Regions from separate parts of the Homo sapiens genome. Here regions 1 and 3 are each linked to region 2. Evidence: fine-mapped expression QTL. A gene starts in region 2. Each other region holds a variant in brackets. All regions are shown on one strand. Distances are from middle to middle. Region 1 has its middle 23 kb from the start of LONRF2. Region 2 holds the start of LONRF2 (LON peptidase N-terminal domain and ring finger 2). Region 3 overlaps CHST10 (carbohydrate sulfotransferase 10).

Evidence for each region. PIP is the estimated chance that this variant, and not a neighbour inherited with it, causes the effect.
Region 1: its variant is the best candidate, but not a certain one, in a credible set for the expression of LONRF2 in stomach (GTEx, PIP 0.72).
Region 3: its variant is the best candidate, but not a certain one, in a credible set for the expression of LONRF2 in atrial appendage (GTEx, PIP 0.52).

What each region holds. Positions count from the first base shown.
Region 1 is chr2:100,342,524-100,348,960 of GRCh38, forward strand. No RefSeq gene overlaps it. Among named protein-coding and RNA genes, the nearest start is that of LONRF2, 23 kb to the left of the region's middle. The variant T/A (reference allele first, on the strand shown) is at 3,302.
Region 2 is chr2:100,319,007-100,325,443 of GRCh38, forward strand. It overlaps LONRF2 (LON peptidase N-terminal domain and ring finger 2), which reads right to left and starts at 3,495. Exons shown (of 12, transcript NM_198461.4): 1 at 2,409-3,495. The coding sequence starts at 3,087.
Region 3 is chr2:100,406,642-100,411,641 of GRCh38, forward strand. It overlaps CHST10 (carbohydrate sulfotransferase 10), which reads right to left. Exons shown (of 7, transcript NM_004854.5): 3 at 1-66. The coding sequence starts at 34. Among named protein-coding and RNA genes, the nearest start is that of CHST10, 8.5 kb to the right of the region's middle. The variant G/A (reference allele first, on the strand shown) is at 2,465.

The DNA of each region.
Region 1 (6,437 bases), 24 kb after region 2:
CCCATAATCCCTGCGTGACATAGGAGGGACACAGTAAGAGGTAATTGAATCATGGGGGTGGGTTTTTCCCATGCTATTCTCATGATAGTGAATAAGTCTCATGAGATCTGATGGTTTTATAAAGGGCAGTTCCCCTGCACATGTGCTCTTGCCTGCCACCATGTAAAACATGCCTTTGCTCCTCCTTTGCCTTCCACTATAAATGTGAGGCCTCCCCAGCCATGTGGAACTGTGAGTCCATTAAACCTCTTTTTCTTTATAAATTATCCAGTCTTGGGCATTTCTTCATAGCAGTATGAAAATGGATGAATACAGTAAATTGGTACAGGTAGAGTGGGGTACTGCTATAAGGATACCTGAAAATGTGGAAGCGACTTTGGAACTGGGTAACAGGCAGAGGTTGGAAAAATTTGGAGGGTGCAGAAAAAGACAGGAAAATGTGAGAAAGTGTGGAACTTCCTAGAGACTTATTGAATGGCTTTGACAAAATGCTGACAGTGATATGGACAATGAAATCCAGGCTGAGGTGGTCTCAGATGGAGATGATGAACTTGTTGGGAACTGGAATAAAGGTGACTCTTGCTATGTTTTAGCAAAGAGACTGGTGGCATTTTGCCCCTGCCCTAGAGATCTGTGGAACTTTGAACTTGAGAGAGTTGATTTAGGGTATCTGGCAGAAGAAATTTCTAAGCAGCAAAGCATTTCAGAGGTCACCTGGTGCTGTTAAAAGCATTCAGTTTTATGTATTCACAAAAATATGGCTTGGAATTTGAACTTATATTTAAACGGGAAGCAGAGCATAAAAGTTTGGAAAATTTGCAGCCTGATGATGCAATAAAAAAGAAAAACCCATTTTTTGAAATGAAATTCAAGCTAGCTACAGAAATTTGCATAAATAATGAGAAGCCAAATGTTAATCACCAAGACAATGGGGAACATGTCTCCAGGGCATGTCAGAAGTCTCCCCAGCAACATTCCCATCACAAGCCAGGAAGCCTATGAGAAAAAATGTTTTTGTGGGCTGGACCAGGGTCTTGTTGCTTTGTGCAGTCTCGGGACTTGGTGCCCTGCATACCAGCTGTGGCTTAAAGGGGCCAACATAGAGCTCAGGCTGTTGCTTCACAGGGTGCAAACTCCAGACCTTGGCAGCTTACACATGGTGTTAGGCCTGTAGGTGCACAGAAGTCAAGAATTGAGGCTTGGGAACCTCCACCTAGATCTCAGAGGATGTATGGAAATACCTGGATGTCCAGGCAGAAGTGTGCTGCAGGGGTAGAGATCTCTTGGAGAACCTCTGCTAGGGCAGTGTGGAAGGGAAATGTGGGGTGGGAGCCCCTACACAGAGTCCCCACTAGGGCACTGACTAGTGGAGCTGTGAGAAGAGGGCCACCATGTCTAGACCCCAGAATGACAGATCTGTTCCCGGACTGAACCAGGTCTGGCTGCATTTTCTCATGGCCCTATAATGAGATGCATATGAATTGGGAAAGAAGAGAGTTTGCTTCTGTAACTGGATACAGGGAGAGGGTCAGAGATAATTTGTTAGACCAACTCAGGATTATAAATTTTTTCCAGTGCCTACATATGTTTAGATTGTATGCCTATGTTCAGTACCATATTCACCTAAGTTTATAGGTGATTAATTTTGTTTTAACTACAAGGCCAGAGGCCAGAGATGTCCTCTAAATCTACTTAATCCATGAGGGCCCTGGAATCATGGTGATTAAGAAATGTCTCCTAAGTCTGTTTAATGAGGGCCCTGATACTGGAGTGATTACTTCTGTCTTATCTTACCTACGATTTGTGTCTAGAGAGTTGCTTCAGACCCCCAGTAAATTTATTCAACCCAAGATGGGTCTTGGTATGAGGAATGTAGGGCTGTCTTTGTTATCTTGACTTACCCCAGGTGTGGTCAACCCAAGATGGGTCCTGTTACAAGGAATGTAAAGCTATTTCCATTATCTTTACTTGTTCCAAGCTTCAGGAGAAGCCTGAGCAAGACTCTCCTGAAACATATGTTTCATTTCTGGCTTTAATGTCTGGGCATCAGTTTCCCTAGGTTTAATTATTAACTTACTGTTAAGGCAGACGCTGTGGAAGTTTGCCTGTATAACTGGAGTGCTATGGAGCCCTGTCTGTGTGACTCTCAGGGAGAATTGGCCTGCCACAGATCAACAACGGCTTGCACTGTGTGCCTGGAAAAGCCGCAGCCCGTGAAAGCAGCAGAGAGGGAGGCAAAAAGCCACAAGGGCAGAGCTCCCCCAGACCATGGAAACCCAGCTCTTGCATCAGCATGACCTGGATGTGAGACATAGAGTCAAAGGAGATCATTTTGGAGCTTTAGGATTTGACTGCCCTGCTGGATTTTGCAATTGCATGGAGCCTGTATCCCCTTTGCTTTGGCCAATTTCTCCCATTTGGAACAGATGTATTTACCCAATGCCTGTACCCCCATTGAATCTAGGAAGTAACTAACTTGCTTTTGATTTTACAGGCTCATAGGCACAAGGGACTTGCCTTGTCTCAGATAAGACTTTGGACTGTGGACTTTTGAGATAATGCTGAAAACAATTAGGACTTTGGGGGACTATTGGGAAGGCATGATTGGTTTTGAAATGTGAGGACATGAGATTTGGGAGGGGACAGGTGTGGAATGATATGGTTTGGCTGTGTCCCCTCCCAAATCTCATCTTGAATTGTAGCTCCCATAATCCCCACATGTCATGGGAGGAACTTGGTGGGAGGTAATTAAATCATGGGAGCAGGTCTTTCCTGTGCTGTCCTTGTGATAGTGAATAAGTCTCACAAGATCTGATGGTTTTATAAAGGGCAGTTTCCCTGCACACACTGTCTTGCCTGCCACCATGTAAAACGTGGCTTTGCTCCTCCTTTGCCTTCCCCCATTATTGTGAGGCCTCCCAGCTAGGTGGAATTGTGAGTCCATTAAACCTCTTTTTCTTTATAAGTTACCCAGTCTCAGGTATTTATTCATAGAATTATGAAAATGGACTAATACAGCTACTTCTTCCCCAGTGGCCCAATTTGTTAAACTACCCTAAAATATACTCCAACAACTACTGGGAAGTCAATCCTGCTGAATAATTTTTACCAGTTCACACATTAATTTGTTATTTATTAACAGCTGAAGGAGGACAAGGAGCCTGCAAAAGCTCCTAGAATGTTACAGGCATTTCTTTATCATTCCTGCACACTTGATACTGACTTGGGAGTTAGTGAGTAAATATAGGTTAAAAAAGAGGTTGGGATGGAAGATAAGCCCTATTCTTACAGAAACTTGTGA[T/A]TAACTCTCACCAAACCTTGGCATATTTAGTTTTCTACATTACATATTTTTCTATTTTTCTTCTGTAGAGATGATAGTTGCCTATTATAAATTGTAAATTTGGGACAAGTTAAGATCACCCCAGGAGTGTAAAATCTTGGCAGCTGCTGGAAGTCTGCTCAAGCACAGTGTAGTTGGTTTTCCTTACTTACCCTCATAGATATCCGCAACTGAAAATAGGTTGTATGGCTTTCAACTATAGAAATACGGCTCTTTATGCTATGGGTCTTTAGAGGACAAAAATAACCCTGGCTGCAGGGCGTCATGAACAGAGGTGTGGATGAGGACTAGTAGGCTTTTCCCAAGGCTAAGTCACTAGGTCCATTTAGCTGATGTGCAAGGAAAGGGAGGCAAGGCTTGGAAAATAAGTTGGCAAGGGGAAAAGGGCCCTAGTGACAACCTGAAGAGTCCGTGGTCTGAAACCTAATACAGTGGAGGAAATGGAGCAGTGGAGACTGCAGTGACTCAGAAGAAGAACAGCAAGGATTTTATTCATCCATTAGAAACAATTAAAGCTCCAATGTAACCCACATGCTCCCCTTGGTCAAAAGCCCTTAGCACAGATTGTGGCTCCTGAAAGGCTATTTAGCTACCATTTTAAAAATCATTCTGAAAGTTAAGGCAACAAGAGCAGGATCTTCTGCTCTGGGCTCAATTGTAATATTGGAGAAAGGACTATGTGGCCAAGCAGAAATTATGGGAACTTGGGAGAAATTCCCTGCCATGTTGGAGTGAATTCCAGACAAGGGAGATGATGGCATTGTCTTATGGGTCTTACATTTTAAGAAGATGTATTTCATAATTTCCAGAGAAAAGATAATCATAAATTCTTGGTGAAATTTTATTTTAAAAAGACTCATAAATGTGTATTTTTGCTAATCTATTCATAATTGAGGTCACAGTGGTGGTGAGAATTTGAGAGGAGAGGGTCAAATTGTGCCCAACCTCACAGGCTATGGCAGGGACTTCAGCATTTACTGTGAGGTGGAACACTGTTGGAGGGCTTTGAGCATAGGATTCATGCGAGGTGACTGACATCTGAAAATGTTCACACTGGCTGCTCTGTTTACCTAGCACCTCCTCAATAATTATGCAAAAAGTTTACAACAATATGTAGGAGTTTACTTTCACTCCCTACATATCTTTTGTGCTATTATGTCATATGTATTTTTTCCTGATAAAAGTTTTTCTTTGCCTTTATTTTTGCAGGCTATTTTTGATGAGCATAGAATTCGAAGTTCAAAGTTACTTTCTTTCAGCATGTTAAAGATGTCATTTCATTGTTCTGGCTTTCATAGTTTCTAGTGAGAAGTCTGTGACTGATTTGTGTTTGTTCCCCTATGTAATATGCTGTTTTTTCTTCTGATTGCTCCTAAGATTTTTTCCTTTATCACTGGTTTTCAGGAATTTTATATGCCTTGGGGTGGTTTTCTTTGTATTTAACCCTCTTGGAGTTCACTGAGCTTGTTAAACTTGTGGACATATAGATTTAATCAGATTTGGAAATTTCGGAGGCCATTATTTCTTCAAATATATTTTTCTGTTCCCCATTTTCTCCTTCTGGTACTCCCATTACATGTGTGCTAGACTATTTGACATTATCCCAGAGGTCACTGAGATTCTGTTGATTTATTTTCAGTGGTCTCTTTTTTATTTTGCATAGTTTCTGTTCTATCTATTGCTATGCATTCTAGTTCACTAATCTTTTTTTCTGCATGGTCTAGTATGTGAATTTTTTTTCCCACACAATGAATTTTTTTTCCAGATATTGTATTTTTAATCTCTAGGACCTTCCATGTGGTTCCTTTATATATCTCCCATTTCTCTCCTTACTACACTGATGTTTTCCTTTAAGCACTTAAACATAATTATAATAACTGTATTTACATCTTTTGCGGCCACTTTCATTATTTCTATTATTTCTAGGTCTGTTTATATTGACTGATTTTTCTCCTAAGTTGTGAGTCACATTTTTCTATTGCTTGGCAAGTCTAATAATACTGAACTGGATGCTGGAAATTGTACTTTTATTTAATGAGTATCTGGATTATTTTCTTTTTAAGTACAGGGCAAGGCTGGCCATGGTGGCTCACAACTGTAATCCCAGCATTGTGAGAGACTGAGGAGGGAGGATCACTTGAGTCCAGGAGTTTGAGATCAACCTGGGCAACAAAGTGAGACCCCATCTCTCCAAAACAACAACAACAACCAATTAACTGAGCATGGTAGCGTGTGCCTGTGGTCCCAGCTACTTGGGAGGCTGAGACGGGAGGATCACTTGAGCCCAGGAGGTCGAGGCTGCAGTGAGCCATGACTGTGCCACTATACTCCAGCTTGGGTGACAGAGAAAGACTCCCTCAGCCCCCCAAAAAGTATAGGGCATTGTTCTGGTAAAGTTACTTTCTGTTCCTTTTGAGGCTTCTTTTGAAGTTTTGTTATGGTGGATCTAGAGTTGCCTTTATATCAAGGAGAGCGTAGCCTTACTTCTAAGATGTGGCCCATCTGGGGGTTTCTATTGGGTGCCCTGAGTGGTGAGGGACAACTCTTTACTCTGGCTAATGGTGACCTTGCATAATTTCTAGGAGTGTGTGAGCCCTGAGAACCATTCAGCTCATAACTCTGACCTCTCTTTGCTCTACCTCATGGAGCTTCATCCTACATGTGCACACTTTATAATTCAGGAAAGTCTCAAGGCAACTGCCAGGTAAGTTTCTGTAGCTCTTTCTTTCTCCCTCCTGTTTATTCTATCTTTCCATTCTTGTACTCTGCCCCCACAACTTTCAGTTGCCTGAACTCCAACCTCTGTCTCCTAAGCCCAGGGAGGATTCTGTTCACTTTTGGGATCCCCTCCCTACTCCATGGTCCACAATGAGCCTCCAGACAGAAAGTTGGAGTATATATAGAATTTTTTTGAATGCATGGAATAATAGTTAGCTATTCCATATGCACAGTATTTGTTACTGAAGTAAAAACAATCCTTCCACTATTTTAGGATCAATTTAAAATTAATATGGTTAATACAAAACTGAACACATGGAAGAAAACTACTAAAGCAAACAGGTATTTCCTGCCCCCCAGGCATTCCAAAAGAAAAAAA
Region 2 (6,437 bases):
GTAATCCCAGCTACTTGGGAGGCTGAGGCAGGAGAATTGCTTGAACCAGGGAGTCGGAGGTTGTAGAGCCACGCCACTACACTTCAGCCTGGTGACAGAGCAAGACTCCGTCTTAAAAAAAAAAAAAAAAGTCAGAGCTTGGATCTAAACACAGGTATTTCTGATTCCAAACATCTGTGAACTTTTTTTTTAACTATATCAAAACCTCTTTAAAAGGGCTAATTTATTTTGAAATTAAATGTTTTCATAAAATTTTAAGCTAATCTTTGAATAGAAAAATGAATACATTCTATATAAGTTCTCATATGAATTTACTGAAATAGCCTATTTTAAAAACGTTTAAATTAGGTCTAATATATATACAGAAAAGCTAAAAATATAAGTATATAGTGCAATGAACTATTGCAAAGTGAACACACTTGTGTATCCATCCCCTAAATCATGAAACAGAACATCACCACTACCCCACAGATCCCTCTCATACTTCCTCACAATCACTATTCCCTTTTCATCCCCCCAAGGTAACCATTGTCCTTACTTCTAACATCCTACAGTAATTTTGTCTGTTTGGGCTTACAGATAAATAGGATCATATAGTAAAAATGCTTGAGTCTGGCTTCTTCCACTTAACATTATGTTTGTGAGATTTGTCCACATTGTAGTTTGTAACTGTAGTTGATTTATTTTCTTTCTGTATAGTATGCTATGAAAACATAATCATATATTCACCCCTTCTGCTCTTACTGGACATTTGGGTTGTGTGCACTTTTGGGGTATCTCTAACAATGACATACACTCTTGTATCTAATTGCACATTCTTTTGGGGGCACATATGCATATACCTCTTTGAAACTATTTGGCCAAGGACAGGCTTAACATCTGTAGATACTACCAAATATTTTTCAGGGGCATAATTTGCAGTCCCATTAGCAGCATATAAATATCACAGTTTTCATTTTTCTACATCTTCTCCAACATCTAAATACAGATGAAGTATTTCTGATGAAAATTTGATGTTGGAATTGGGTAGTGCAGTAAATGCAAAATATATAACGAATTTCAAAGGCTTAGTTTAAAAAAGTAAAATCTCAATTATTTTTTAAAATTGAAGGCATGTTGAAATAATATTTTGGATGTATAGGGTTAAAAATTGCTAAAATAAATTTCACCTGCTTTTTTCACCCTTTTAATGTAGCTACAAGAAAATCCCAAATTATGTGTGGCTTACACAATAGTTCTAATTGGATAGTGCTGCTCTAACACCATCAATACCTAAATTAGTAGAAAACTAAAAAATATGCCTGTTAAAGTATGGATATGTTGGTTGCAAAAACTACAGAATACTCGTTAGAAAAGCTGAGTTAAGTGCTCTATTCCAGCAGAGAATATCCCAATTTAGATACAGATATTGAACACTTGTTCAATATTTGGATCTTTTTTTTTGCAAGACAAAATTGAATGCTAGTCACTTTATAATTTGTGCCTTCTAAAAGGGAAAACCTTAATCCTAAGTTTAAAATAAAATGTGCACTGACTACAGCATGGTAGTAGATTATTTTAGTAACAAGAGATTCAACAAGTCTTCTCGGCTAGTGCTTTAAATCGTATATGCCCTATTATAAAACCGGTGAAACCAGAAAGCAAACCGTCCTCCTCACACTGCCCAAAACAACTGCCAATAGAGCGCATACTCATATGTCAAAGCCAAAACGATGACAGAAGTTTGGTCTTCCTTTCAGCTAAATAGTGTTAACAGGTGGTGGCTGGGTGAAGGCAGGAGAGTGCCTGTTGCTGGCCTTAGGCCTCAGATAAATAAGGAAATGACTGAATGAACAATTTAAAACTACACACACTAGTCAGTGTAACTATCTAGTAAGTTAAATACGCCATGACATCTAATGATGGCCTCTGAGACAGAGAGCAGGCTAGAGCCGGAGCGTTTGACGTGATTACAGCAGAGTGGAGGCGGTTCCTTCCTGGCTATATTAGCTGAAACCCAAAGCAAATCTTGCCCCAGCACAAGGCACCCCTTTCTGCGCCTGTAGTGTGTCAGCTATGTGCATTTTCCTTCAGGATGAGCAAAAATATTTCGTCATCCTCCCCGCTCCTCAACAGCGCAGAAGATGCCGAAAAGCAATTACAGGACCTTACAGAGCTGCTCCGGGGGCCGCGGGAAACTTACCAGCATCCTGGAAAAGACAAAACCAGTGGGGTGCACTTGGCCTCTCCTGGCTGCAGGGTGTGGCCGCCCCCACCTTTCACCTTCCCATCCTTAGGAAGCAAAGTGACCCCTAAGCCTAGACAAAGCTCTCGAAAGCCCAAAGCCTCGGGCCCACCGGCCAGCTCCCCACCCCGCTGCTGGGCCGGACAGGTGTAGGGGAGGCGGACCCGCCCCGCAGCCGACTCACCCAGCTCCAGGGCCTGGTCGCACCTGAGCAGCGCGGCCTCCGGCTGCTGCTGGCGCTGCAGGCTCCGCGCCTGGCCTGCCAGCCTGCGCAGCCGGCACTCGGCCGGGAAGCACTTCTCCAGCAGGCCGCTCAGCACCACGTTCACGCGCCGCACCTGCGGCCGCGCGGGCCCTGGCTCCACGCAGCGCTTGCAGACTGTGAGCCCGCAGGGCAGCGTCACCGGCTTATGCAGCAGCCGCCGGCAGCGCGGGCAGCCGAGCAGGTCGCGGGGCGCGCGGGGCTCCGGGGCCGGCCCTCCCTCGCCGGGCGCCTCGGGCTCGCCGCCCGGGTTCTCCGCGGACAGCGGCCGGTCGCGCAGGCCCACGGCGCGCACCAGGCCGCCCGCCAGCTCTTCCAGCTCCTCCGGCCGCAGCGCCCCGAGCCGCGCGGCGCCGCGGAACGCGCCCAGGGCTTCGGGGAGGCGGCCGGCGCGGGCCAGCGCGTCCCCCAGCCTCAGGCACAGGCCGCGGTCCGGCTGCGCCAGCCCGGCTAGCATGGAGCGAAAGAGCTCGGCTGCCATCTCGTAGTCGCCCGCGCGGAAGGCCTCGTCGCCCTCCTCTAAGCGCTGGGCGATCGGCTCCGCGCGGTCGCAGCCAGGACACTGGGGCGGCGGCGGCGGCGGGACCGGCTCGGGGCTCATCACCGCGGGGCTGCGACGACGCGGGTCCGGAGCGAAGGCGCGGAGCAGGGAGGATGCGCTGCTGCTGGGAACTGGCCGGCGGGAGCGCGGTCTCAGCCCTCGCCAGCAGCCACGCGCGTCTGGGGGCGGCGCGCTGCGAGCGGCTGAGACCGCGGGCGGGGGCGGGCGCCTGGCTTGGGCAGCGTCCTCAGCGCGGTGTGGGCGGCGAGCCCCGCAGGGCTGCAATCGTTCCGGGGTGGGGGCCGGGACAGGCACCGCGGGCGCAATCTGAGCCCCTGCCCACGCGCAGCGGCCTCTCAGTCCCGCCGGCTTAGGTAACCCAGGTCGCTGCGGTAACGCAGTGACCGCGCTCCAGGTCCGCGTCTCTTGCGATGCTTCCCCCACTCGCCTGAGGGCTCCTGCGCGACTGCGCGCGCGTCCTCTGCCTGCCGCCTCCCCGCAGAGGTGCCGGGGCCCTGGGAGCAGGTGGCCTTGGCCGCGGGCTGCTGGCGCGCCGGCACCGCGGCACCTGCTCTTCCCCAGAGGCCTGGCCGCCCCCACAACCTGTGGCTCCGCTTAAGCAAGAACCCAGGAAAAGTCACCAAACGCATCACGCATCTCTAGCTTCGACTTAGGAAATTGTCCTAAATGACTGGGGAGGCTGAAGTGGGCACCCAGAGGCCCCGCCTCAGCGAGCTTCTTCTCTTAACTCTAGGCTGAGGCCTTTGAGAACTCATTTTAACAGAGAACGTGGAGGGCCAAGAGAACCAGATACCAGGAGGAGGAGGGATTCGAGAAGTGGACAATTGTATTGTGCCCTTGATTAGGAAGCAGAAATAGAATTAGAAATAGAATTCTAATTAATAGAATTAGAATAGAAATAGAAAGGGTGCCCTAGTATGGAGTACTGCAGACATAAGTTGCTGGGGAGAGGGAGCTAAACGCTCCGTTGGTGTACAAGCAAGGTTTAAATTAAAATCCTCTGTGCGTATTAACCGGGTTCATAATTTCTCCTATATAGCCTATGTATTTCTCCTATGTAGCCTGCTCCCTTCTTCCTGTCGTCACAGTATCTGTTTTATCCTGTGTATTTGAATACAATAAAATGCATTACAATATTCTAGAATTCATACTACTGTTCATATTTCAAGAATAAATTTTTTTAAAAAATTGGAGAGGTTTTTCTACATCTAAAACTGCTGGCTAAAGAAAATATACAATACCTCGACCACATCTGGCTTTGGGAAAGGAGAAATGCCTCATTAAGTGAGAGAACATTTTAGACCAGTTCCTAAAAGGGAAAAAGGGGCAATTTTTGGCCAGCCCTCTAGTTCTACAATAAACAAATGCAGAGTACCCACCTCCTTTTCCATGAAGGATTTCCCCCAGCTGTCTACCTAACTTAATTGATAACAGTGTACTGTTTGGGTCTCTTTTTCATTACTGAATTATTTCAAATTCACTTTTTCAATCACTGTTTGGATTTTTATCTGCTTTCTTTATAGAATAACAATTCACTTATATTTGAGGGTCATTTATCCATCAAATTCACAACCAACAATCAGGAAGCAATGGGGAAAAAGCTTCAGAGCACAGACCATACAGTAAAGATTGTGAAACCTTATGATCTCAGATCCTATTTGTTCTTATTTTAGACAAATATCTAGCAAGAGAACAGAAAGAAGCTTGCCGGAGGTATGCCTGCTGAGAGCCAGAAGTGTTTAAAGCAAAAATGTTAGTGTGTTGTGAGGTTTATAACACATAGAAATAAAATATATCACAAATATAACACAAAGGCAGGTAGAGGAGAAATGGCAGGATACTGTTGTAAGGTTCTAATGCTATATGTGAAATGGTATAATGTCACTTTAAGAAAGACTGTAATGAGTTAAGGATGTGTCCTCTAACCCTAAAGCAACCTCCTAAATAACACAAAGAGCTATAGTTTAAAAGCCTATAGAGATGAAATGAAATTGTTAAAAAAAACTCTATTAATCCAAAAGAAGGCATAAAAAGAGAGGAAGGAAACAATTAGATAAAACAAATAGAGAACAAATAGCAAGATGGCAGGTTTAAACCCAATTATATCGGTTAATGTTCATTAAATATTGTCTAAATACCATAATTAAAAGGCAAAGATTGTCAAAAGGAAGACCCAGATATATGCTGCCTACCAAAAAAGAACTTTTAAATATGAAAATACAAATAAGGTAAAGGTAAAAGGATGGAAAAAGATGTTCTAGTTAACTCTAAGCAAAATAAATCTAGAGTGACTATATTGATAGCTGACAAAGTCTATTACATAGCCAAGAACATTGCTAGGAGAAAGGACAGCCATTTCATAATGATAAAGGTGTTAGTTGGTCAAGAGGACATAATAGTCCTAACCGCGTGTGTTCCCAATAACAGAGCTTTCAAATATTTGAAGCAAAAACTGATAGAACTGTAAGGTGAAATAGGTAAATTAATAATTATAGTTGGATATTTAAATATCCCTTTTTCACCATAAAAAGAACAAGATCATGTCCTTTGTAAGGACATGGATGGAGCTGGAAGCCGTTATCCTCAGCAAACCAACACAGGAACAGAAAACCAGATGCTGCATATTCTCACTTATGAGTGGGAACTGAACAATGAGAACACATGGACACAGGGAGGGGAACAACACACACTGGGGCCTGTCGGCGGTGGGACCGAGGAAGGGAGAGCATGAAGAAAAATAAGTAATTCATGTGGGGCTTAAAACCTAGGTGATGGTTTGATAGGTGCAGTAAACCACCATGGCACACGTTTACCTATGTAACAAACCTTCACATCCTGCACGTGTACCCCAGAACTTAAAAATAAAACACCCCTCTTTCAACAATTAATACAAGTATACTGAAAATCAGTGAGGCTATAGAAGACTTGAGCAATTCTACAAACCAACTCAATCTGATTGATGTTTATAGAACACTCCACCCAACAATAGCAGAATACACATTCTTTCCAAGTGCACATGGGACATTTACCGATATAGAACATCTTAGAGCCATAAAACAAATCCCAATTTAAAAGTATTCCTTCTAGGGCACTGATACATCAATAAATTGGATCAAATTGAGGACTTCTGCTGTTTTAAAGACACTGCTAAGACATGCTACACACTAGGAGAAAATATTTGCCGATCACATAGCTGATAAAGTACGAACCAAAAATATATAAAGAAATCCAAGAACTCAATAAGAAAATACAGAACTGGATTAAAAAGTGAGTGGAAGATTTGAACAGTCATTTCATTACAGAAGACATATTGATGGCAAATAAGATGCTCAGCATTATGAGCCACTGGGGAAATGCAAATGAAACCCCAAGCAGTTAGTACTGCACAC
Region 3 (5,000 bases), 87 kb after region 2:
AGCATGCGGCCAGCAGAAGCCACTGGTGGTGCATGTTGTCACACCGCAGCCATTCACTGACTCTTCCTGGAAAACACAAGCGAGATGCCCCTGCTGCTTACAAATACATCAAGTCAACAAAGAGGAATGAAAACGACAGGTGATTTCAGTCAGTAAGTATCAGCACAAATATTTCCGTTTTTTTCCACTGCTACAATAGGTAGTTTGACTTGGCATTTAACATTTCATATTGAATTAATAATATAAATGATTGATTCAATAATAAAATCAAATTTAGAACACCCTAATGGAGAGACATGATAATGAGAGAAGACCACTTCCTTGTGTTCTCAGAACACAGAATAAGACTCCTTTGCACATTTGATCCCTGACTCCTGTTGGGCCCAGGCTAAGGTCCCAGTGAGCTCCCACGATGGTCTGGAAGCAGGTGGCAGGAAGAGGCCTGCCAAGGACTAGGCCTTAGCTGAGGGTCATTCATAGTGGGCAGAAGCCATGCTGGGGCAATTAGGAGCTGGCTGTGTTTAAAATTCTGACTGGCTGACAAGATGTAGCCACACCTAGAGAAGCTCTAAAAAAGCAAAGGAATGAACACTGACGCTTCTCGCCTCCGCCCACTTGCCAGCAGCGGCCTGGGTAGAACACTGAGGTGGGTGTTTTTCATGCTGTCACAGCCAGGGAGCAACACGGGGCATGTCGGTCCTCAGCCTGGCACAGAAGCCACACTCTCCTGCAGGAGGCACATAAAGAACTGGGAAGTCACTGTCAGTTCTTGGCAGGTGACACAAGAAAGTGTGTTTCATTTCACCTTTAACACAGTGCTTCTTCAAGCCAAAGCTCTCCACGTACAGACAAGACCCTGGGCTGAGCTGGCTTCCACCGACTGACTGAGGCCATCCATCACTTCTGCATGGCAGGGAGAAGTGGTCCCCTCAACACAGTGCTGATGGCAAATAATTTCAGAGAGAGCCTCCTAACCCTGGGTGGGTCAGAGCTCCATGAAGACCCAGGTGAATCACTCTCCTTGTCTCAACATTTACATCCTAGAATCTCACAGGAACCAGGCATCTGGAATGCAAATAGGATCCATGACACACCCACCACGTAGTTATCCGGCCACACCTGAATACAGCCTGCAGTGGGGAGCTCACCACCTGCCAAGCTGCCTGGGTTTTCTCCGGATGGCTCGCAAACCACCCTCAGGTGCCCGTGTATAAGGCTTCGTGTGTTTCCTGGGGTCACCAATAGGGTTGCCTGATTAGACAAATAAAAATACAGGACATCCCCCAAGTTAAGATTGAATTTCAGATAACATAAAATTTTAGTGTAAGTATAACCCAAATATTGCATAAGACATACTTATACTCCCCCCCAAAACCAGTATTTTTTGTGCCCAGATATGAGGCCCAGTGTCCTTCCCAGGTTCCCCAAGTCGGGTTGAACAAATAAAAACACAGGATACCCAGTTAGATTTAATTTCAGTTAATTTTTTTAGTATAAAGTATGTCCCAAATATTACATATACTTATACTAAAAAAAAACAAAAACAAAAACCTATGTGTTGTTTTCTGAACTTCACATTTAACCGAGTGTACTGTAGTTTATCAGCAACACCACCCAGCAGGGGCATGCCAAATTCCTTGCAAGCCAGCTGTCCTGTCTCCTGTCTCCATCCCACAATCCCCTCCTCCTTCCGCCACTCCATGTCAGAGATAGTGAGGCACAAAGAACCCCAGACTTGGTTCAAATCCCTGCTCACACCCATTAGCTCTGTGACTCCATAAGTCACTTAACCTCTCTAAGCCTCAATGTCCCATCTCTAATAGAAGGCCCTCCTCCTACCACTACCTCAGAGTGGCCATGAGGATTAAATGAGACAATGTAGACAAAAAACCAGCACCCACCTGGCCTGGTGCAGACCCCCAGTAAAAACTGACCAATCCCTTGGCACTCTTCGTGATTTTCCAGCTTAATCTACACCTTTCTCAGTGTGGTTGCCAGAAATTAATGCGACAGTAGGGTCTACACCAAGAAGAGAGAAAAAAACAAGACACACTCTTATTCCAGCAACTGCTAACTTCCCTTCAAGAAACTGAGGCTTAGACTGTGGCCAGAGGATGCAGGGCCCAGCAGTACCAAGTCCACTGAGCTCAGCCCTCTAAGACAGTGCACTCAGGGGGGTCCATCCTCATGGGTCACAGTGAGAGCACCCCCCTGAAAAATGCCAGCTGCAGGCCATTTCTAACCAAGCAGCAGAGGCACCAGGGTGGGTTGGGGAGGGAGTAAAAGGAACAGGATGTACCACGCAGGTTGCATGCAATTCTAAACAGACAGGTCCTGGCTCTGAGTGTCCTGGGGCTTGCAACCCACCCTCTCCTAGGATCAGTGCTATGAAAAAGGGAACAACGATAAGAGGCACTGCCTCCCTCCTGCAGGTGACGCGCTGACTCTGCAGAGCATGTGGCGG[G/A]AGGACCTGGGAACTGCATATTCCACTGCCTGCTCTGCTCATTCCCTCCAGGCTTCCAACCCCTGATCACCCTCGCCCGGCCTCAGGACAGCACTTTGGAGGTTTTTATAGTTTAAGAATCAAATCTTTCCAATGGAACTAGTCTTCTGAAGGAATGTAATATGATTTCGCCCACTGAGCTCATCTGCAGGTAAAGTGGGAAGATAATGAAGCCTTACCTGAAAATGAATAGCACCTCTTCTGTTCTCCAGGAAGCCAGGTGGCCTAGGGATAGGATTTCTCCAACTACATGAGTTGAAAACTGAGAGGTGCACTCTCCTGAAGCCATATGTGCCTTCCTAAGTATTGGATTTTCATTTAAAAGTCAGGAGCTCTTAGCTTCTTTCAGCTGGGCGGGGGGTCAGGGGCTGGTCTACACTCACCCTCTCCCTAGCTAGTCTTTCACCTGGGCTGGGGTCAGGGACTGGTCTGCACTCACCGTCTCCGTAGCTAGTCTTTCACCCGGGCAGGAGGTCAGGGACTGGTCTACACTCACCCTCTCCCTAGCTAGGTGGCTGTGGGTGTGTCAATGAAGAGCTCTTCGGGCTCCCATTTTTCATCCACAGGAACAAACAGCTACCTGCACACTCATCAGTCAGAAGACCTTCTCAACAATCATGCAACTGACCATGTATCATCCAATGTGTTCTTTCACATGGGTATTTCATTTTCAAAAAATCCATTTTTAACTTGACTTCTGCAAACTCTTACTAAACTAAGATATACAGAGAGTCCCTTCCCTGGCCACTCCATTAGGATAGGAGAAGGGTGGACTGCAGGGTTCCCACCTCCTTCCCCTGCTTTTTCCCTGCTTCTTGTCCCCGGGATGGTACCAGGACACGTGGAGACTCCAGTGGGGGATGTGGATTTGCAAAGCTTCAGGGGCAAAACCCTAGCCCTGCCAAAACCACTCTCTTGAGAAGAGCATTACACCCCAGGCCCCTATCAGCATTTCAAGCACAGCTGCCTGCCAGCATGCCCATATCTGGCTGTAGAGCCCCTTGCAGGCCACAGAGCCTGTGGGCAGTCACTGCGGGGTCCAGGAGGGAGCTCTCTGAGGAGCTGCTCCCGGCCACTGGGCTTCTTGTACACTCGGGGTAAGCAGGGCCTGCTCCCTTTCCCATGGGCAGCAGAGGAAGAGTCAGCTCTGCCTCATCACCACCCAGGTGGCACCCCCAGCACCGCTCTGCGCCACCTGACCTTGCTCCACTTCCTCCACTACACCCAGCACAGTCCAGATGCTCTCGCTATGTGCCATTTGCTCTCCTTGCAGAATATGGGCTCATGCTGGTCAGGACAGCAGGGACCAGCACAGTGCCTGGCGCACCATGAGCCAACAATTGCTATTTGCTGAATGACTGTGTCAATTGAGCAACTTACTAGAACTCAGGAATGTGGAAAGGTACTTCAGGAGGCAGCCTGCCCAACCCTCTCCCTGAGGGTCTCCAGGCTTTTTCAAGAATGAGGCCCCCTTTCAACCTCAAAATATTTCTCTAGTCTCCACAGAGCAGTTCTATGTTTAATATCCATTAACTGAGACTAGAAAACAACCAAATGCTATGAGGACTTCAGTATTATTTGAAAACAAAATGATCTAAGCCACAGCATGTATATGCATTCAAATACACTTACTACTTAAAACACATTGATTGGGGGGTTTAGGAAATCATGCCGAAGTCCAAAAACATTTTCATTTCAAATAAAACTCTATGATGAAAGGCAAGCCAATGACATAGATCCATATCCAAAGTGTCAAGATATACCAGTAAACAAAAAAGACAAGTTGCAGGATGGAATGTATGATCCCATTTGTTAAAAAAATCATGTATGTGTGAAATATATATGATTACACACATATACAAACATAGACACATATATGTAATACATAGAATAAAATCATGAGAGGACAGTAAGAGCTCTTTTTGTACTTTATACAATTCATATTTTAAATATTTGTAATAAGCATTTTTTCTTTTTTTTTTTTTTTTTTGAGGCAGTGTGTCTCTCTGTCACCCCGGCTGGAGTGCAGTGGTGCAATCTTGGCTCACTGCATCCTGCACCTCCTGGGTTCAAGCGATTCTCCTGCCTCAGCCTCCTGAGTGGCTGTGATTACAGGCACGCCACACCTGGAAAATTTTTATATTTTTAGTAGAGATGGGGTTTCACCATGTTGGCCAGGCTGGTCTTGAACTCCTGACCTCAAGTGATCCACCTGCCTTGGACTCTCAAAGTGCTGGGATTATAGGCGTGAGCCACCACACCCGGCCTAGTTAAAAATTTAGAAAACTGGGACTTGTTCTACAAGTCACATCCTACATGAGCCAATCAGAACCAGTAAGACTACAGCCCAGTACTCTCTCAAAATACCCACTTCCCTCAGGTCCAATATCTCTACAGTTTACAAAATACAGCACTCAAACATGAGTAGGTGTGTATGTGCATACAAGTTTAAGGACAAAATAACCTAAAAATAATGACTTCAAGCTCATTATTCATT